Linked DNA regions of Homo sapiens. The protein of the gene in region 1 interacts with the protein of each later gene in a biochemical or structural test. Each region holds a gene or a part of one and is shown in the gene's direction. Other genes may lie near its edges.

What was found.
Region 2: the proteins of CTNNA1 (region 1) and SPTBN1 form a complex in vitro, tested with the Homo sapiens proteins (one study listed by BioGRID).
Region 3: the proteins of CTNNA1 (region 1) and JUP form a complex in vitro, tested with the Homo sapiens proteins (2 studies listed by BioGRID).

The regions. Positions count from the first base shown.
Region 1 is NC_000005.10:138,777,341-138,784,447, forward strand, and holds part of CTNNA1 (catenin alpha-1), read left to right. Parts: intron 1-4,582; 5' UTR 4,583-4,584; coding exon 4,585-4,689; intron 4,690-5,836; coding exon 5,837-6,032; intron 6,033-7,107. UniProt on the Homo sapiens protein: Associates with the cytoplasmic domain of a variety of cadherins. The association of catenins to cadherins produces a complex which is linked to the actin filament network, and which seems to be of primary importance for cadherins cell-adhesion properties.
Region 2 is NC_000002.12:54,627,232-54,634,338, forward strand, and holds part of SPTBN1 (spectrin beta chain, non-erythrocytic 1), read left to right. Parts: intron 1-865; coding exon 866-1,019; intron 1,020-1,701; coding exon 1,702-2,572; intron 2,573-2,660; coding exon 2,661-2,798; intron 2,799-3,623; coding exon 3,624-4,380; intron 4,381-5,334; coding exon 5,335-5,537; intron 5,538-7,107. UniProt on the Homo sapiens protein: Fodrin, which seems to be involved in secretion, interacts with calmodulin in a calcium-dependent manner and is thus candidate for the calcium-dependent movement of the cytoskeleton at the membrane.
Region 3 is NC_000017.11:41,755,655-41,762,761, reverse strand, and holds part of JUP (junction plakoglobin), read left to right. Parts: intron 1-3,891; coding exon 3,892-4,047; intron 4,048-4,243; coding exon 4,244-4,363; intron 4,364-4,977; coding exon 4,978-5,128; intron 5,129-5,225; coding exon 5,226-5,347; intron 5,348-6,547; coding exon 6,548-6,587; intron 6,588-6,866; coding exon 6,867-7,018; 3' UTR 7,019-7,107. UniProt on the Homo sapiens protein: Common junctional plaque protein. The membrane-associated plaques are architectural elements in an important strategic position to influence the arrangement and function of both the cytoskeleton and the cells within the tissue.

The DNA.
Region 1 (7,107 bases):
GCGGCCGGGCAGAGACGCTCCTCACTTTCCAGACTGGGCAGCCAGGCAGAGGGGCTCCTCACGTCCCAGACGATGGGCGGCCAGGCAGAGACGCTCCTCACTTCCCAGACGGGGTGGCGGCCGGGCAGAGGCTGCAATCTCGGCACTTTGGGAGGCCAAGGCAGGCGGCTGGGAGGTGGAGGTTGTAGCGAGCCGAGATCACGCCACTGCACTCCAGCCTGGGCACCATTGAGCACTGAGTGAACCAGACTCCGTCTGCAATCCCGGCACCTCTGGAGGCCGAGGCTGGCGGATCACTCGCGGTTAGGAGCTGGAGACCAGCCCGGCTAACACAGTGAAACCCCGTCTCCACCAAAAAAATACAAAAACCAGTCAGGCATGGCGGTGCGCGCCTGCAATCACAGGCACTCGGCAGGCTGAGGCAGGAGAATCAGGCAGGGAGGCTGCAGCGAGCTGAGATGGCAGCAGTACAGTCCAGCTTCAGCTCGGCATCAGTGGGAGACCGTGGAAAGAGAGGGAGAGGGAGACCGTGGGGAGAGGGAGAGGGAGAGGAGGGAGAGGGAGAGGAGGGAGAGGGGGAGGAGGGAGAGGGGGAGGAGGGAGAGGGGGAGGAGGGAGAGGGGGAGGGGAAATGTTTCTTAATCTGTCTTTTTTTTTTTTTTTTTTTTTTTAAACAGAGTCTTGCTCTGTGGCCCAGGCAGGAGTGCAGTGGCACCATCTCCACTCACTGCAAGTTCTGCTCCCCCAGGTTCATGCCATTCTCCTGCCTCAGCCTCCCGAGTAGCTGGGACTACAGGCGACCGCCACCACGCCCGGCTAATTTTTTGGTATTTTTAGTAGAGACGGGGTTTCACAGTGTTGACCAGGATGGTTTCGATCTCCTGAACTCGTGATCCACCCGCCTTGGCCTCCCAAAGTGCTGGGATTACAGACGTGAGCCTCCGCGCCCGGCTGCTTTGACATTTTTCAAGACTACAGCCAGTTATTTTGTAGATCGTCTCACGCTTTGAATTTGATGTTGCCTCATGACTAGTTGAGGTTATGTAATTTTCAGGCGAAATAACACAGAGGTGATGTTGTATCCTTCTCAGTGCATCGTGTTAGGAGATACGTGATGTGGGTTTGTGTCCTTATTAGGGACAGTAATTTTGATTACTTGGTTAAGGTGGCATCTCAGGTTTCTGGACTGTGAAGTTACTATTTCCCCCATCTGTCATAAATAAATAATCTGTTGGGAGTTACTATGACACTAGATCACGCTACTGAGAAACTGAATGCTAATCTACTTGGTTAGCATTCTTTGATTCTTGCCTGAGGCAATTAATATTATGGTTCCTGAATGCTGATTTTTCTAAATACATTGTTCTTTCTACATTTATTAGTTTGTTTCCTATTGTTTGGAAGAACTTTTCCTTCTTTATTCATATTAGCATGGACTCATGCATTAGTCAATGGATCATACTTTGTTCTATCTAATCTCCACTAAAGCTCTCTGAAGAAGGCAGTGGTTGGTAGTCTTTTATGAGGGATCTAGTTCAAAGTTACGTTTTTTTTTTGAGATGGAATCTTGCTCTGTTGCCTAGGCTGGAGTGCAGTGGCATGATCTCGGCTCATTGCAACCTCTGCCTCCCAGGTTCCAGCGATTCTCCTGGCTCAGCCTCATGAGTAGCTGCGATCACAAGCAACCGCCACTACGCCTGGCTAATTTTTGTATTTTTAGTAGAGAGAGGGTTTCACCACATTGGCCAGGCTGGTCTCGAACTCCTGACCTCAGGTGATCCACCCACTTTGGCCTCCCTAAGTGCTGGAATTACAAGCATGAACCACCATGCCTGGCCAGTTTTCACCCAGTAGTTTTGACATTCATTGCTAATCCTTGGCTGGATCAGTTTTTACCAGTGGGGGTTGCAAGATGGTCATTTTCTAATTCTATTCTAGATTCATGGTAAAGAAATTCCCTCCCCATACCCTTTCTTTTGAGGATCCCTATGGTCTTAAGGATATTTATTTAATTATTTAGTTACAGACAGTTACAGTCATTATTCTCTTTGATAGTTGTCCTAAATTTGGCTGATGGGAGCCCTTGCTTCCTGTGTCTTTTGATATGATCTTGTTAGTCTTGTCCCCTTTCCGCACAATACAGTGCTTCAGACCTGGAACTTTGGTTTCTATTAATGGGAAATGGTCCGTTTTTTAAAAAAAAAATAAGTAGAAATGGGATCTCTCTGTGTGGCCCAGGCTGGTCTCAAACTCCTGGGCTTAAGTGATCCTCCTGCCTTGGCCTTCCAAAGTGCTGGTATCACAGGCATGAACCACCATGCAAATGGTATTTAATAGAAATAAATACTTGGGCACTGATAACACTGGTTTTTTTTTGTTTTTGTTTTTTTTTTGAGACAAGAGCTTGCTCTGTTGCCCAGGCTGGAGTGCAGTGGTGCGATCTTGGCTCACTGCAACCTCCACCTCCCAGGTTCAAGTGGTTTTCCTGCCTCAGCCTCCTGAGCAGCTGGGATTACGGGCGTGTACCACCACACTGGACTAATTTTTGTAGTTTTAATAGAGACGGGGTTTCACTATGTTGGCCAGGCTGGTTGTTTTGTTTTTTAATTTGCCAACATTGTTTTTAAGAGTAACATTGTAGCCCGTTGTGTCATTGTTACATAATTTATTGAGTGATCTGTTGTTTGAAATTTAGGTAATTTATAACTTTTAATGTTTATATAAAGCAGTGTTGTGAACATCATTGTATCCCAGTTTTTACATGTTCCTTAACTTTAGAATAAGATTTTAGCAGTAGATTTTCTGGGTCATACAAATGTACTTTTTAAAGATTTTATTTTATTTATTTATTTTATTTTTTATTTTTTTGAGACGGAGTCTTGCTCTTTCGCCCAGGCCGGACTGCAGTGGCGCTATCTCTGCTACTGCAAGCTCCGTCTCTGGGGTTCACGCCATTTTCCTGCCTCAGCCTCCCGAGTAGCTGGGACTACAGGTGCCCGCCACTGCGCCTGGCTAATTTTTTTTTTGTATTTTTAGTAGAGACTGGGTTTCACCGTGTTAGGCAGGATGGTCTCAATCTCCTGACCTCATGATCTGCCCGCCTCAGCCTCCCAAAGTGCTGGGATTACAGGCGTGAGCCACTGCGCCTGGCCAAGATTTTATTTTTTTAATTTTTATTATTATTATTATTTTTTAAGATGGAGTTTTTTTCTTGTTGCCCAGGCTGGAGTGCAATGGCACAATCTCGGCTCACTGCAGCCTCTGCCTCCCGGGTTCAAGCGATTCTTCTGCCTCAGCCTCCCGAGTAGCTGGGATTACAGGCGTGCACCACCAGCCTGGCTAATTTTGTATTTTTAGTAGAGACAGGGTTTATCCTTGTTGGTCAGGCTGGTGTCGAACTCCCGACCTCAGGTGATCTGCCCGCCTTGGCTTCCCAAAGTGCTGGGATTACAGGAGTGAGCCACCACGCCCAGCCTTTAAGCTTTTAAATGTCTACCAGCAGTTTGTTGTCTAGAAAGTTTATATTAGTGTTTACCTCAGCTTCATGCCTTTTCTTTTCTTTTTTTCTTTAATAATTGAAGGCACTACTTTTAGAAGAAAAGACTAACTGTTATTTTCGTTGATGTTTTCTCCCTATTCTTAAAGCCGCTGTCTGACAGAAGTTTCTCTTGACACTGATACAGTGATATTTGACTAAGTGTGATTTGAAATTTCTTCTGGCTATGAGTGATAATAGCTGTGGGTGCAGAGGGCAGCTGATTTAAACATTATGTTTTAATAGAATAAGACAAGTCCTTCTCTAGGAATCCATCAAAAAATGAAGTGAAGCATACCTTTTAGATACTACTGTACCATGAATGTTGTGGAGTAGGAAAAATCAGGATCTTCTGTATTCGTTTTTGAAGCAGTGTCTTTGAAAGTAGCTTTTGGCCGGGTGCGGTGGCTCACGCCTATAATCCCAGCACTTTGGGAGGCCGAGGCAGGTGGATCATGAGGTCAGGAGATCGAGACCATCATATCCTGGCTAACACGGTGAAACCCCGTCTCTACTAAAAATGCAAAAAAATTAGCCGGGCGTGGTGGCGGGCCCCTGTAGTCACAGCCACTTGGGAGGCTGAGGCCAGAGAATGGCGTGAACCCAGGAGGCGGAGCTTGCAGTGAGCTGAGATCCACCACTGCCCTCCAGCCTGGGCGAAAGAGCAAGACTCTGTCTCAAAAAAAAAAAAAAAAAGAAAGTAGCTTTCATTCACTTTAGCTTTTCATCTTGTTTCTAAAGGTGGGGCAGATAAAGTGAGTAGGAACTGAGGTAGGAAGTCTTGGTGCTAGAGAAGCCCAAAGGGAAACATTCTGTGTGTTTGGGAATGCCCTCTTGTAGTACCCCTCCTATTTGTAAGCCTGAAATCATTAAATATTAAGAGGTTGTAAGGTTTACTGGGTCTTCATGTGTAGGCTAGTTAGAATTTTTTCATCTATAGTGAATATAGCTTTCCTGATGCAAAAGTCCCAAAGTAGGAGAAGATTTGTTACATATTTCATGTTTGTGTTTGATGTTTGCCTGACTGACTTTTTGTTTCTTATTTAGAAATGACTGCTGTCCATGCAGGCAACATAAACTTCAAGTGGGATCCTAAAAGTCTAGAGATCAGGACTCTGGCAGTTGAGAGACTGTTGGAGCCTCTTGTTACACAGGTAAGAATCTGAAAACACAAATACATTGTAACATGGTTCTATAGCACAGGCCTGGGTAACAACCATAAGAGCAAGGTTATTTAGTTCAAAGCCTTAATTCCAGTACTTGAGTTTAGGTGACAGTTCTTAGATGATTTGAATATTGATGCATGGGTTTAGTTAACCCTTGAGAACGCTGCTGCTGTCGTTTTCTTCAGTCTTATTGCTAGTAACGGGTCCATGGTATGTAGTGCAACTTTGCAAATGTTTGTGCTTTGCAGATACTTCACCTTTCTTCAGAGGGGAAACCCAAGAAAGGTGGAGTCTGGATCCTTGATTGTTAAGGTCTCTCACTCTGCTTAACACACCTTTCATTGTGTGGGATTAATTAGCAGGTAATTCAACTTGAGGGTTTAGGTTTGGTATGCTACAAATGTCACAATGTTAGGGTAGTTCATAAACTGTTAGCAACTAGCTGTGTACTTTTAGTGTTTTACAATAGTATGTCTATTGTTTGTATGTGAGAGATTCAGAGAGAGAGAGAGAAAATGAGTCTTGTTTGGCAAATTTACACTATAACATATATTCATCATCTTTAACCTAGAGATAATCTGGTATTATGTGTATTAATGATGGTAATGTTCTAAGACATAAAGCGTCATCACTGTAGGCTTCTTTGGGCAATCATTCGTTTATTGGGACCTTTACTAATTGCTGAGATTTGTGTGAATAAACTGTCAAAAGACTTCAGAAGCAAATTATCTTAAAATGTTTTGCAAAGTTTGAAAACAGTGGCAGTGTGATCTCCAGATAAAGCTAAGTTCATTGTTAACCTCTTTCTGGAACATCTTGGTGACATATAGTAGAGACATCTAACTTGTCTCTAATCATTTTTTAATTTGTAAAATCAAACTAAAAACCTAATGATCATATTTGAGAAATTAAAATATGTGTTAAATAATTCTCTGTACACATTAAGAAAGCTGAATTATTTTGGAAATTAAATATAGCATCATTGCTGTATATCTTAAATATGGGGAATTGTATGTTAATGTTCAGTGGAATCTCATGTGATTTTTTAAAAGAATAACTTAATCTTGCTGTCTTTAAAGATATTAGTTTGTCATTTTAATTGACTCCAGTTTAATGTTAAAAATGAAACTTTTAGGTTACAACCCTTGTAAACACCAATAGTAAAGGGCCCTCTAATAAGAAGAGAGGTCGTTCTAAGAAGGCCCATGTTTTGGCTGCATCTGTTGAACAAGCAACTGAGAATTTCTTGGAGAAGGGGGATAAAATTGCGAAGGAGAGCCAGTTTCTCAAGGAGGAGCTTGTGGCTGCTGTAGAAGATGTTCGAAAACAAGGTAGGTCATTACTGCTTTTTAGGTAAAGAGAGGCAGGCCTTTCTAGAAAATCAGTGTTTGAAGATTTTTTTTGTGGTCAGTATTCTCATTCTTATGCTTGCCAATTGCTCAGTAACTTACTTAGTTATTGGAGATGTATTAAGTTGGACTGGCTCATATTTTAATTCTCATTCTTATGCTTGCCAGTTGCTCAGTAACTTAGTTATTGGAGATGTATTAAGTTGGACTGGCTCATTTTAATCATGAGAGATGCTTGCAGAGGGACATCTGGAGAATCTGAATCCACTTCTCTTGGGTATTTCAAGTAATAGTTAAGTCTTAGAAATGTTGTAACACAAATTGATAGGAAAGAAATGGGACCGAAGTTTACTTTTCATCCTGTGTAATACTTCTTTTTAGTTCATGCTGAAGAGATGGGTGTGATAAAATGGAAAAATATCTACCTACTCTGAAAATACTCTAGAAATTGTCCTATTGTGTCAGAATAGTATGTTAAATCAGCCATGCATATTTGAACTGGTTGGAGCTTGACATAAATCTGGGTATAAAGGAATCATGTTTTGGGAAATTCAGAATTGATAAAAAGTAAAATGGTAATCCACAGTTTACTAATAATTAATGCTAGAAAAATTGTCCTTATTATGTTACAAATGTGGAAGGAAGACTTTAAATACGGAAGATAAACTTCTTGAAACCTGCAGTTTTTATTTTTAGTAGAGATGGGGTTTCACTAGTTGCCCAGGCTGGTCTCAAACTCCCAAGCTCAAACAATCCGCCTGCCTCGGCCTGCCAGAGTGCTGGGATTGCAGGCATGAGCCACAGTGCCCGGCCTTGAAACCTGTAGTTGTGTGTTAGGTTTCTTTTCCAGTCGGAGAATTTCAACAATGATGTAGGTTTTTTAGGTTATTGGATATCAGCTAAGGTAAATCGAGCCCTGCTATTTACAGGTGCTTTACTAACCCTTGGGAGAACTTCATAGATCTTTCGTGCCTGATGGTAGATTGCATAGTCCAGAGTCTTATGTCAAATTCATCCCTGTGGCAGTACCCATAAATGGGCAGTGCCTTAGATGGAG
Region 2 (7,107 bases), on another chromosome or scaffold:
CTTGACCTCTCAAAATAGAAATGTTCGTAAAATGTAGCAGAGAGGGACTTTTCATTTTATAAATCATGATGCACATTGTAACTCAGTTGGTCCAGAGACTTCCTCAGAAGTAAGAGTGAAGTAGAAATCTCATCTGGCGAGGATGTAGAATGAGGCCCCCAAATTTCGCTGGTTGATGGAAGAAACAAGAAAATATCAGTGGGTTCAAACTTAAACTCTAGAAGTTGCTTGGGGTCTACTAAGCAAGACAGCCACCTGACCCTGCTCTCCTTATTGGTTTAAAGATGTGGCTTGTAAGCTTTTCAAGTAGATTGTTTTCCCATTGATTGTGTAAGTACAGTAGAGGCATACCAATAAGCTCCTAACAGAGGAAAAACATTCACTTACAGGCTCAGCAACTTCTAAAAGATTTCTTTCAACTTTGAAGTGACCAAGTCTATCACCTTTATTTATTTATTTTTGAGTAGTTGTTGCAGCGGTTTCTTCTTGAAGCTCCAGTTTATATTTTGGAATCTTTCATACAGCACCCCCGCCCACGCTCCCCACTGCCCCCTCCCCCCCACCCTGGCCCCGCTGGCCCTCACCATCTTTTTCTTCTATTCTGCACTTTTTAGTGTAGATTTGACTTACTTATTCCAAGTTTGGTGATCCTTAGTTTGTGATAGCTCTCCTGACTCAGGCCTTCAGGTATGATTTGTTTTGTTCTGGTTTGTTGGCCATCATCTTCCCCTGAAGGTGTGGGGTCCATGGCAGACTAGAGGGAAGGCATAGCTTCATTGCTGGCTCTCTGCTTGTCGAAAGATGATGTGATGCTGAAGTCAAGGCTATAGTCACAGATGTCCTTTTGGTTGCTTCTTGTGCACAGGTGCTAGTATTGTCTCAAGACTATGGCAAACACTTACTTGGTGTGGAAGACCTGTTACAGAAGCACACCCTGGTTGAAGCAGACATTGGCATCCAGGCAGAGCGGGTGAGAGGTGTCAATGCCTCCGCCCAGAAGTTCGCAACAGACGGGGAAGGTAAGGATGGCCCATTCCAAGCATTACCTCCGGGTCACCAGAGATTCATATTTATAGAAACACAGTGGGGCTTTTGAAGTTACTGTGCCACTATACATTCCTGGTGGGTTTGTCATGGGAGCATGAAATACGGTGGAGTGGCCTTCTGAACACTAACTCCATCTTGTTTTTCTGGAATTGATACATCCTTTCCTTAAATACGCAAATGCTGCCTTTGCTTTGAGTGGCTTGGTGTTTGGCAGTGAGACTTTGTCATACCTCAGTCTCTCTGGCCATGCACCGACACCCTGGTGTGGCTGTTCCAGCAGCTCCTGGCTTTCACAGCTGGTTGCATATACCTCTCTTTGGAGGATGTTTAGAATGATTTGGTTATGCTTCGTGTATTTCTAGAAACAATTATATGCAGCTGCCTTTTTCATATGATTCAAGTGCTTTCTTGCAGGAGGATGATCACTTTGTCTGCGGTTTGGCCAAAAAAAAATAATGTTTATCATTGCCCTCACTCCTGTTCTAGTCAAGTTGTTAGAAGGTGCTCCATTGCCTTATCGCATGGCCCTGCATTTACATTTAGCAGTGAGCTGGTAATCATAAGAATATGGGGTGTAGCTTACTGCCTGCCAGTGAGCCTGCACCCATGCTGAGCTCCCTCACACAGCCACGTTCCTTCCTTGATGTTAAACAGGTTACAAGCCCTGTGACCCCCAGGTGATCCGAGACCGCGTGGCCCACATGGAGTTCTGTTATCAAGAGCTTTGCCAGCTGGCGGCTGAGCGCAGGGCCCGTCTGGAAGAGTCCCGCCGCCTCTGGAAGTTCTTCTGGGAGATGGCAGAAGAGGAAGGCTGGATACGGGAGAAGGAGAAGATCCTGTCCTCGGACGATTACGGGAAAGACCTGACCAGCGTCATGCGCCTGCTCAGCAAGCACCGGGCGTTCGAGGACGAGATGAGCGGCCGCAGTGGCCACTTTGAGCAGGCCATCAAGGAAGGCGAAGACATGATCGCGGAGGAGCACTTCGGGTCGGAGAAGATCCGTGAGAGGATCATTTACATCCGGGAGCAGTGGGCCAACCTAGAGCAGCTCTCGGCCATTCGGAAGAAGCGCCTGGAGGAGGCCTCCCTGCTGCACCAGTTCCAGGCAGATGCTGATGACATTGATGCCTGGATGCTGGACATCCTCAAGATTGTCTCCAGCAGCGACGTGGGCCACGATGAGTATTCCACACAGTCTCTGGTCAAGAAACACAAGGACGTGGCGGAAGAGATCGCCAATTACAGGCCCACCCTTGACACGCTGCACGAACAAGCCAGCGCCCTCCCCCAGGAGCATGCCGAGTCTCCAGACGTGAGGGGCAGGCTGTCGGGCATCGAGGAGCGGTATAAGGAGGTGGCAGAGCTGACGCGGCTGCGGAAGCAGGCACTCCAGGACACTCTGGCCCTGTACAAGATGTTCAGCGAGGCTGATGCCTGTGAGCTCTGGATCGACGAGAAGGAGCAGTGGCTCAACAACATGCAGATCCCAGAGAAGCTGGAGGATCTGGAGGTCATCCAGCACAGGTGAGCGGGGCGCTGGTCAGCCACTGGCCTGTTCCTTGTGACCACCAGTGGCCCAGGAGGTGACCACCCTGTCAAATTGCCATTTCAGATTTGAGAGCCTAGAACCAGAAATGAACAACCAGGCTTCCCGGGTTGCAGTGGTGAACCAGATTGCACGCCAGCTGATGCACAGCGGCCACCCAAGTGAGAAGGAAATCAAAGCCCAGCAGGACAAACTCAACACAAGGTGAGCACGTGGCCAGCAGTGTGCCAGCCTCCCACGTGTGGGACTGGGGAGGGTGAGGTCACTCATCGAGCTTTGCTGTTGGGAATTTCCCACATGGGGTCATCGACATTGCAACACTGATGTCATGGCATTGGCACCTGCCTTTTGACATGTCCTTGTTTTGTAAGAAGTGTCTCTCAGGGCAACATCATTGGTTGCAGGAGGATTATCTGAGTCAGCCCAGCATCTGCCCCTCGCCACACCAAAGTTAGGGCCTTGGTTTGACCTGTGTCCAGTGTAGAAGGTATTAAGATGACACCTGTGCTATCCATTTTATAGTAACTTCAGGAACAGGACTCTAGCATGTTTAACACTTAATTTGCCAATGAAAGTCCTGATTGTCAGGGCAGACCTTTGTTCCAGTCTTATCTTTCTGTTGAGTAAACATGTTTGAGTAGGTTATGGCACCTGGCCCCAGTTTTGAAGGTTACCATCAGTCTTAGATTTGGAAAACGTTCATTAGGTAGAGTTCAGAGATGTGTAAAATGTGTCACAGACATGAATTAATTGACTCTGGGAATGGATATCTTGTAATTGCTCACATTGGAGCTCTGTAACACATTCCTCTTCGTGACAGGCTTTTTCCAGATTACATTGCATCCCTGAGCTATTTCCATTATATTTGGTGTTCACAGTTTGAGTGAGATGATTTTCCAAAAAAGCATGTAGTCAAAGCACAGATGGAGAAAACAGATAAGCAGCATTAACCCATCACTGTTCCTTTTGCAATCCAGCCATGGTCAGTCTTCCCTTTTTCACACTCGCTGTCTGCCCCTGCACTCACAGGTGGAGCCAGTTCAGAGAACTGGTTGACAGGAAGAAGGATGCCCTCCTGTCTGCCCTGAGCATCCAGAACTACCACCTCGAGTGCAATGAAACCAAATCCTGGATTCGGGAAAAGACCAAGGTCATCGAGTCCACCCAGGACCTGGGCAATGACCTGGCTGGCGTCATGGCCCTGCAGCGCAAGCTGACCGGCATGGAGCGGGACTTGGTGGCCATTGAGGCAAAGCTGAGTGACCTGCAGAAGGAGGCGGAGAAGCTGGAGTCCGAGCACCCCGACCAGGCCCAGGCCATCCTGTCTCGGCTGGCCGAGATCAGCGACGTGTGGGAGGAGATGAAGACCACCCTGAAAAACCGAGAGGCCTCCCTGGGAGAGGCCAGCAAGCTGCAGCAGTTCCTACGGGACTTGGACGACTTCCAGTCCTGGCTCTCTAGGACCCAGACAGCGATCGCCTCGGAGGACATGCCAAACACCCTGACCGAGGCTGAGAAGCTGCTCACGCAGCACGAGAACATCAAGAACGAGATCGACAACTACGAGGAGGACTACCAGAAGATGAGGGACATGGGCGAGATGGTCACCCAGGGGCAGACCGATGCCCAGTACATGTTTCTGCGGCAGCGGCTGCAGGCCCTGGACACTGGATGGAACGAGCTCCACAAGATGTGGGAGAACAGACAAAATCTCCTATCCCAGTCACATGCCTACCAGCAGTTCCTCAGAGACACGAAGCAAGCCGAAGCCTTTCTTAACAACCAGGTAAGGTTTGTTCCTGCCTTTGCTTCCTTTCGGTGAAAGCAGCCCTGGCTGCCTTTTGAAATGTTTTGGCTGGGGCAGCTGGTTTAAACCACACCTGTATGGAATTATATGGATAATTTAGAGACTGATTTTTTTTTCCCCATACTCTTAAGGCATTGAAATCCATCACGTTGTAGGGGACAGGAATTGAAAGTTGCCATAAGAGCTGCTTTGCCTTACAAAGTACTGTTTGATTTCAACTGCCATTGAGGATCTCTTATGTGTTCATAGTATGTCTTCATAATTGAGGTATTGATCCAATTTAAAAGATACAGTGAGGGCCAGGCATGATGACTCACTCCTGTAATCCCAGCTCTTGGGGAGGCTGGGACAGGAGAATCACTTGAGCCCAGCAGGTCAAGGGTGAAGTTAGCCGTGATCGTGCCACTGCACTCCAGCCTGGTGGCAGGGTGAGACCCTGTCTCTTAAAAAAAAAAAAAAAAAAAAAGTACGGTGAGGATTTTTTTTTTTCTTGAGACCAGTCTGTCTTCTTGCTCTAGAAGGGTCAGGGACTTCACCTGAGGACACAAAGTAGAGATTAGAGAAATAAAAACAGCTGAGGATAGTCACCAACTTCAGGGCTGTTACTGTCTCAAAGAGAGAGTATGAAGGGTACATTGCTGTTGCCTTGATAGGCACGTGAGAGGACCCTTGAGGCTGATACACAAAGCTTTGGTTCCTTTCCTCACTCTCTTTGGAAAAAAAAATTTAGAGCATTAACCCCTGAGGGAAATTCGGTCAGTTACAGTGTCCCACTGGGTTTTTTTCCTCCTAACTTTTAATTTGATGTGATTTAATTATTTCATGTAAGTGTAATGAAGAAAGTGTTGTGAACTATGTTGCACGGAAATGTAGAACACAGGAAAATGAGATCCTTCATTGATCTGCTATGATTTGTTCCTCTTTTTAAATAAGGAGTATGTTCTGGCTCACACTGAAATGCCTACCACCTTGGAAGGAGCTGAAGCAGCAATTAAAAAGCAAGAGGACTTCATGACCACCATGGACGCCAATGAGGAGAAGATCAATGCTGTGGTGGAGACTGGCCGGAGGCTGGTGAGCGATGGGAACATCAACTCAGATCGCATCCAGGAGAAGGTGGACTCTATTGATGACAGGTACAGTTTTCTGAGGTTCTTAAGGGAGCCTTGCACCTTGGGGCTCTCAAACTTCTGAATCATTGGCCAGAAGCCCTTGGGAGTTTAGGTATAAATTTCCCAGTGGGCAGAATATGGGTGCCCAGCAGAAGTTCATCTACCCATACAGAAAATTAGTGAGCTGTGCATGACTGCCTGAGAATGTGGGTCTGGTGAGACATGTACAAGTGTCCACAAAAGGAAAGAAAGCCTGAGAAGCCAAGCTAATTCTTAACCGAGGACCTGTAAGAGCCGTAGTGCTGCATCGCGATCAGGTGTAAGCCATGCCCTTTGAGGATTAACACACGCTTGTGTCACCTGATAGGACCCCTGGCGCCAGGTATTCCCAGCCAAGCCCGTGTTCCCCTTCATCCATGAGAAAGAAGCCTGTCAGGAGAGTGGGAAGGGAGGGTGAAGCTTGCTTGTTCTGAGTACCTGGCAAAGCTACAAAGGAACATTACCTGGACTTTTTTAGAAAATTGGCTTGGATAGTGCTGTAATAGGATCTTTTTCATGATGGAGAGGTAAATAAGAGCAAAGGTTATTTTCCTCTTCTGCCAGGGCATCTCCAGGATTGGATACACTTTCTTCATTTCTTGTTTAAAATTATTTTTTTATTTACGTGTGTGTGTGTGTGTGCGTGTGTGTGTCTGTCTGTCTGTCTGAAAGATTTCCTCCCCGGCTGGAGGCCAGTGGACTCTGTTTGACCCTAACTCTTTGACTCACTCCTTACTCTTGCCTTGCCCCGGTTACTTAAGTTGGAGGTTGGGGCAGATCAGGGGTTGGATGCACTAGCACAGGCCAGTCTGGGCCAGCCACTGGATCAATCACTAGCCCCTGTTCCAGTTTGGGTTGAATTTAAGGGCTTGCTGTGAGACTGATGTAATCAAAAAACAAGCCCTTCCTTTCTGCCTCTCTTCTGGCCTTCAAGTGTGTTGGAAAGGAAAAATATTCCTTTGCTTACCACATCTGAGAGGGTTTCCTGGGACCCCTGGTCAGGTTGACTTAAAATAAGATGGGTGGAGAGGGGATTACTCTGTTTCCAATAAAGATTGAGCTCCTGTCTTTACCACTTCCAATCTTTTTTTCTGAGCTGATTCCCAGGCTGAACTATATGTTCTAGGGTGGTATTGTGGAATAGAGAATAACTTATGTTAATTATAATTTTGTATCTGTTGCTTTTAAAACAGCTGCAAAAAAGAAAAATAAATCCACCAAACCCTCCTTAAATGAGCATGAGAAACAGCAATTGGGCAAAGCATTCATAACCTAGGGAAAAAGAATTTCCTTTTTTTGTAATATTAACTCTGAGTATTTTGTAAATAAGATATCCTATGTACTTCCATGTTAGATGCACACAGCTGGTTTCCTGCAGGCGGGCTTGGCTGTTAGGGATGTGTGCATTCAGGCAGGCATGCAGCTGCCTTGCTGCTTCCTCGGTTTCTTTTTATGTCCCCAGTGCTGCAACTGCACAAAGCTGTTGGAAGCAGATGATGCTGTCTAGACTCCTGGATATGATAAAACGTTTCAGCAGCAGCAGCCCTCAGTTGTG
Region 3 (7,107 bases), on another chromosome or scaffold:
AGCTCAGAGTTCAAAATGCACATGAGTACCCTGGGTGGTTTCATTAAATTGCAGGTTCCAGGGCCAGGCACGGTGGCTCATGCCTGTAATCCCAACACTTTGGGAGGCAAAGGTAGGAGGATTGCTTGAGGCCAGGAATTTGAGACCAGCCTGGACAACATAGCAAGACCTGTCTCGACAACAATAACAACAACAGAAATTAGCCAGGTGTGGTGGTGCACGCCTGTGGTCCCAGCTACTGGGGAGGGGAGGCTCAGGTCGGAGGATCGCTTGAGCACAGGAGTTGGAGGTTACAGTGAGCTATGATTGCATCAGTGCACTCCAGCCTGGGTGACAGAGCAAGAACCCGTGTCTTAAAAGAAAAGAAAAACAGGAGGCTGGGTGCAGTGGCTCACATCTGTAGTTCCAGCACTTTGGGAGGTGCAGGCAGAGGCGGAAGCGGAAGGATCACTTGAGGCCAGGAGTTTGAGACCATCGTGGGTAACATAGTGAGACACCCATCTCTTACAAAAAATTTGGAAAAAAAAAAAAGCCCAAACAAATAAACAATCTAAAACACACACACACACACACACACACACACACTCTCTCTCTCTCTCTCTCTCTCTCTCTCTCTCTCTCTCTCTCTCTCTCTCTCTGTCTCTCTGCAGGCCTGCTGCAGAGGGCTTGCCATTCTGTATGTCTTTTTTTTGTTGTTTTGAGACAATGTCTATTGCCCAGGCTGGAGTGCAGTGGTACATTCTTGGCTCACTGCAACCTCTGCTTCCCGGGTTCAAGTGATTCTCCTGCCTTGGCCTCCTGAGTAGTTGGGATTACAGGTGCACGCCACCATGTCTGGATAATTTTTGTATTTTTAGTAGAGATGGGATTTTGCCATGTTGCTCAGACTGATCTTGAACTCCTGAACTCAAGTGATCCACCAGCCTCAGCCTCCCAAAGTACGGGGATTACAGGTGTGAGACACCAGGCCCGGACAATTCTGTATTTCTTCTTTTTTTTTTTTTTTTTGAGACGGAGTTTTGCTCTTATTGCCCAGGCTGGAGTGCAATGGTGCGATCTCGGCTTACTGCAACCTCCGCCTCCCGGGTTCAAGCGATTCTCCTGCATTTTTTAGTAGAGACGGGATTTCTCTATGTTGGTTAGGCTGGTCTTGAACTCCTGACTTCTGGTGATCCACCCACTTTGGCCTTCCAAAGTGCTAGGATTACAGGTGTGAGCCACTGCACCTGGCCCAATTCTGTATTTTTAACAAGCTCGCAGGTGCTGCTCCATGGAGCACATTTCTTATGCCACTGGGTGTAGACGAGAGGGTTGTCCTCACACGAATGAGTGGACTGTATCATCCCCACGGATGTGTTCTAGCCCTGAGAACTGGGGATGGCTAGCGGCCACCAGAAAGTGGCACACATCACTCCTGCTCACACCCCAGAACTTGGTCATTCAGCCACATCAAGGTGCAAGGAGGTTAGGAAGTGTGATCACCAGCCAGATGGCCGTGTGTCCTGCTGAAAATCAGGAGAGCCACTACAGAGACACAGGGCACAGAGGATTCTGGGGACGCTTAGCATCTCCCATAGGGAGTTGGGTGTGTGAAGGAGTGGGGTCTTCTTCTTGAGGCTACCTGGGTGGAAGAGAGCTAGCTGTGTGTCACTTCCCTGTCAGGTGGGGGAAGTGAGAGTGGGTCAGGGTGTGGGCAGACCCAAGGGACAGAGTTATGGGGGAAAGCGTTTGTGTGTGTGTATATCTATATGTAGAGACAAGGAAGGCAGCCAAAGGCAAGGTGGCATCTGGTGCCAGAGAGTGAGGAAGCTACCATCGATGAGGGTCTTGTCAACGGGCACAGGAGCCAGCTGGCAGGGGCATCCGCCAGCTACATTTAAGACAATTTAATAGTACAGACAGGCCAGGCGCAGTGGCTCACGCCTGTAATCCCAGCACTTTGGGAGGACGGGGCGGGAGGATTACCTGAAGTTAGGAGTTCGAGACCAGCCTGGCCAACATAGTAAGTCCCCGCCTCCACAAAAAATACAAAAATTAGCTGGCCATGGTGGCATGTGCCTGTAATCTCAGCTACTCGGAAGGCTGAGGCAGAAGAATTACTTGAACCCGGAAGGCAGAGGTTGCAGTGAGCTGAGATCGCTCATTGCACTCCAGCCTGGGTGACAGAGAGAGACTCCGTCTTGGAAAACAAAAACAAAAAACATGGCCAGGCGTGGTGGCTCACGCCTGTAATCCTAGCACTTTGGGAGGCCGAGGCGTGTGGATCACGAGGTCAGGAGATCGAGACCATCCTGGCTAACACGGTGAAACCCCATCTCTACTAAAAAAATACAAAGAAATTAGCCAGGCGTGGTGGCGGGCGCCTGTGGTCCCAGCTACTCAGGAGGCTGAGGCAGGAGAATGGTGTGAACCCGGGAGGCGGAGCTTGCAGTGAGCTGAGATCGCGCCACTGCACTCCAGCCTGGGCGACAGAGCGAGACTCCGTCTCAAAAAAAACAAACAAAAAAACAAACAAACAAAAAAAACCCAGTGCAGATAAGAATGACTCTAAGTGATTCTACACATTGAATTATTATTTTTTATTATTATTATTATTTTTGAGACAGATTCTTGCTCTGTTGCCCAGGCTGGAGTGCAGTGGCATGATCTCAGCTCACTGCAACCTCCGCCTCCCAGGTTCAAGCAATTCCCGGCTAATTTCTGTATTTTTAGTAGAGACGTGGTTTCACCATGTTGGCCAGGCTGGTCTCGAACTCCTGACCTAAAGTGATCTGCCTGCCTTGGCCTCCCAAAGTGCTAGGATTACAGGCGTGAGCCACTGCGCCCGGCCTATACATTGAATTAAAAAAAGAAAATTCATGTTTAGAAAAAAAAATGTCATTGTGACCCCTCCTTGATGCTTGGTCCCTGCTGCAAACCTGAGGTGGGACTTTGCATCCTAACCCAGCAGCTAAGTGGCAAGTGACTTTGGCAAGTCATTTGCCCTGTGCTCACGTCCCCATCTCACATGATTTTCATCCCTGTCCTCCTGGCGTCTTGTTTTGAGGATGAAATAGATGACACCTTGAGAGGCTCTGGGAGGCCAGAGTGGCTCCTCTGAGTCAAAGACCCTGGGGAGGAGATCTCAGGACACCTCTTTCCAGAGCTGCCCTGCTGGGGATTAATGACAATGTGAGCACCACCCAAGCAGGAGGCTTCGGGGGCACCTAGAGCACAGAATTCCTGAGAATCAGGCTTGGAGGACTATCAGAAAAGCAAGCAAGGTCATGGTGTCTGTGGGGGGTGGTTAAGAAAGAGGGGACAGGGTGAGGGGCCAGGCATGGGGCTGGCAGGATGTTCTGGAATGGGGTGTCATTTTAGCAAGGGCTATTAGAATTAGCCATGAGCAGCCGGACGTGGTAGCCCACACCTGTAATCCCAGCACTTTAGAAGGCAGAAGCAGGCGGATCACCTGAGGTCAGGGGTTCGAGGCCAGCCTGCCCAACATGGCGAAACCCCGTCTCTACTAAAAATACAAAAAATTAGCTGGGCATGGTGGCAGGCACCTGTAATCGCAGCTACTCAGGAGGCTGAGGCAGGAGAATCGCTTGAACCCAGGAGGTGGAGGTTGCAGTGAGGTGAGATTGCACCACTGCACTCCAGCCTGGGTGACAAGAGCGAAACTCTGTCTCAAAAAAAAAAAAAAAAAAGAATTAGCCATGAGCACTCCCAGATCCTGTGGATTAAGTGACATGGCTGGGATGGTCTCCTTCTCTGGATATTTTCCAGTATGTCTGTGTCTGGCCTCGGGGACAGAAGAGGTGAAGGAGGGAAGGGATACTTGAAGCTGGGAAGCTGGGATCCTTCAGATGTCCAAGAAGTGCCCCTGATCACTGCCCCTTTTTTTGCCAGGCAACCATCGGCTTGATCAGGAATCTGGCCCTGTGCCCAGCCAACCATGCCCCGCTGCAGGAGGCAGCGGTCATCCCCCGCCTCGTCCAACTGCTGGTGAAGGCCCACCAGGATGCCCAGCGCCACGTAGCTGCAGGCACACAGCAGCCCTACACGGTATGTGAGCTGGTGGTGCCTCTGACAGCCTTCCTGGGGGGTCAGGGTGTCCTCTGTGGGTGTGTGTGTGAATGGGGAGGTCAGTTGCAACTGATGCCAATTCCAAGAACCTGTGAAGTTCATTCGGCTGTCATGGGGAGGAGTTGTGGCCATGTCCAAGGCACCTGTCCCATGCCCCCTGCCTCCTCTCACACAGGATGGTGTGAGGATGGAGGAGATTGTGGAGGGCTGCACCGGAGCACTGCACATCCTCGCCCGGGACCCCATGAACCGCATGGAGATCTTCCGGCTCAACACCATTCCCCTGTTTGTGCAGGTGAGTCTGGGGCAGGTGGGCAGGAGAGGTCCCCCCACCACTGCTTAAAGGGCAAGGTTAGGAGTCCCAGATTTGGGAGGCCTGGACCAGGTATCAAGAGGTCTTTGGAGGAGTTTGGAGGAAAGTTGCCACTCCAGATTGACTACTTAGCAACCCCCTGCATGGGCATGGCTTTCTAAGCTTCAAAGCAAGGAAAGAGATCACAAATGGAAAAAAAAAACAAAAAACAAAAAAACTTGAGATTCAACCATATAAACATGAAAACCATCTGTATTTCAGAAAGAACCTAAAAAAGCATTTTTAAAAAATCAGCAAACTGGGAGAATATGTGCAAGTACCATAACAGACAAGAAGAGTCTAACATCTTTCACATCAGTGAGCTCATTAACACTAGATTCCAATGGTTAGATGAGGCAGAGTCACAGGTAATTTCAAGGTAGCTCATGAACAATGCTCAGCCCAGTTTAAAGCAGTAACACTTACTCCCCAGTGACGGCCCATTTTCCACTATGGAATTGCTACAGGGTGGAGGTGGGCAGTGCTGTGGGGTGTGTTGTCCGGCCTGCCTCACCCCTTTCCACCTCTCCCCTGCTTCCCACGTCCCCTCTCCCCAGCTCCTGTACTCGTCGGTGGAGAACATCCAGCGCGTGGCTGCCGGGGTGCTGTGTGAGCTGGCCCAGGACAAGGAGGCGGCCGACGCCATTGATGCAGAGGGGGCCTCGGCCCCACTCATGGAGTTGCTGCACTCCCGCAACGAGGGCACTGGTGAGCTGGGGGAGGGCAGGAGGCTGGGTCCCACTCCCCCAGCCACGATGGAGGCTGGCCGACGTTTAACCTGGCTTTTCCTTTCCTCTCTGCTCAGCCACCTACGCTGCTGCCGTCCTGTTCCGCATCTCCGAGGACAAGAACCCAGACTACCGGAAGCGCGTGTCCGTGGAGCTCACCAACTCCCTCTTCAAGCATGACCCGGCTGCCTGGGAGGCTGTGAGTATCCTAGGTTGGACCACAGTAGTTGGTTGTGCAAGTTGGGCACTGCCCATGGGCAACACTTTTGGGGGTCTCCTACTACTGTCAACTTCATAGATTTTTATTTTGTAATTGGATCATTTATAACAATTCCTAGCAGATGGAAGTAGTGGGTTGAATCATATATCCACAAAATGCCAATTTTTATTTTGCCCAAATGAGTATACAGTGTTTGAGGTGGGGGTGCCTTTTTGTAATTTGCGTGGAGGTGCTGGATAGGCTATGGGCGGTCTTTTCCAGGGTGGGGCAGTGCCCTGTACCCATTCTTGAGTCCTCTGCCTCCTCCCCTGAGCTGCTCTAGTCCGGCAGGAGTCCCTGCTTCATGAGTGGGGAACCCTCCTCCCTGGGGAGTACCGAGGACATGAGTATATCAGGGCACTGGGTGACCCCATTTCATCATCCTCTATTCCTCCAAGGCCTCTTTGCTTTTCTCCAGCCCCCTCTTTTATTTATTTATTTATTTTTATATTTTTTGAGATGGAGTCTTGCTCTGTCGCCAGGCTGGAGTGCAGTGGTGTGATCTTGGCTCACTGCAACCTCCGCCTCCCGGTTTCAAGCAATTCTCCTGCCTCAGCCTTCTGAGTAACTGGGACTACAGGTGCACGCTACCACACCCGGCTAATTTTTCTATTTTTAGTAGAGACGCGGTTTCGCCATGTTGGCCAGGATGATCTCGATTGTCTCCTGACCTTGTGATCCGCCCGCCTTGGCCTCCCAAAGTGCTGGGATTACAGGCGTGAGCCACTGCGCCCAGCCTATTTTTTATTTTTTTCGAGACAGAGTCTCACTCCTGTCGCCCAGGCTGGAGTGCAATGGTGTAATCTCGGCTCACTGCATCCTCTGCCTCCCCATTCAAGCAATTCTCCTGCCTCAGCCTCCCGAGTAGCTGGGATTACAGGCCTGCACCACCACGCCCAGCTAATTTTTTTTGTATTTTTAGTAGAGACAGGGTTTCACCATGTTGGCCAGGCTGGTCTGGAACTCCTGACCTCAAGTGATCCGCCTGCTGTCTCCCAGAGTGCTGGGATTACAGGCGTGAGCCATGGCACCCAGCCTGGCCCCCTCTTTTAGAAGCATCTCTCCCTGCCCACCAGCTGAGATCCAGCTCGGAGCCTGCATTTTCAAACCTCCCCTCCATGTTTCTCTCTCCTTTTTCAGGCCCAGAGCATGATTCCCATCAATGAGCCCTATGGAGATGGTAAGTGTGTGCCGGGCTCTTCAGGACCCTGGAGATCCTGGGCGGCTGTGTGGGTGTGTGTGAGGGGACAATATTATGTCTCCGGGGCCAGAGGACCAGTGGCAACTGCTGTGTGGCATCCACATGTACCCCAGTCTAGATGCCCTGGTGTGGGGTCTGGGGAGGGGTCAGGCCCACCAGGGGTGGGCATGGGTAGAGGAGGCAGCTGAAGGCTGTGCAGACTGCTCCCTGCAGGGTAGCTTGCAGACCCTAGGACCGAGCCCCACTTTTTGTCCCCAGACATGGATGCCACCTACCGCCCCATGTACTCCAGCGATGTGCCCCTTGACCCGCTGGAGATGCACATGGACATGGATGGAGACTACCCCATCGACACCTACAGCGACGGCCTCAGGCCCCCGTACCCCACTGCAGACCACATGCTGGCCTAGGCGGCCTGGCCCCAGTACGGCCCCCTCTTTGCAGGCTTTTCCTCCTCTCTAGAACCTCCTTCTGTTGGAGGCCCTCCCATCTCCCCGCT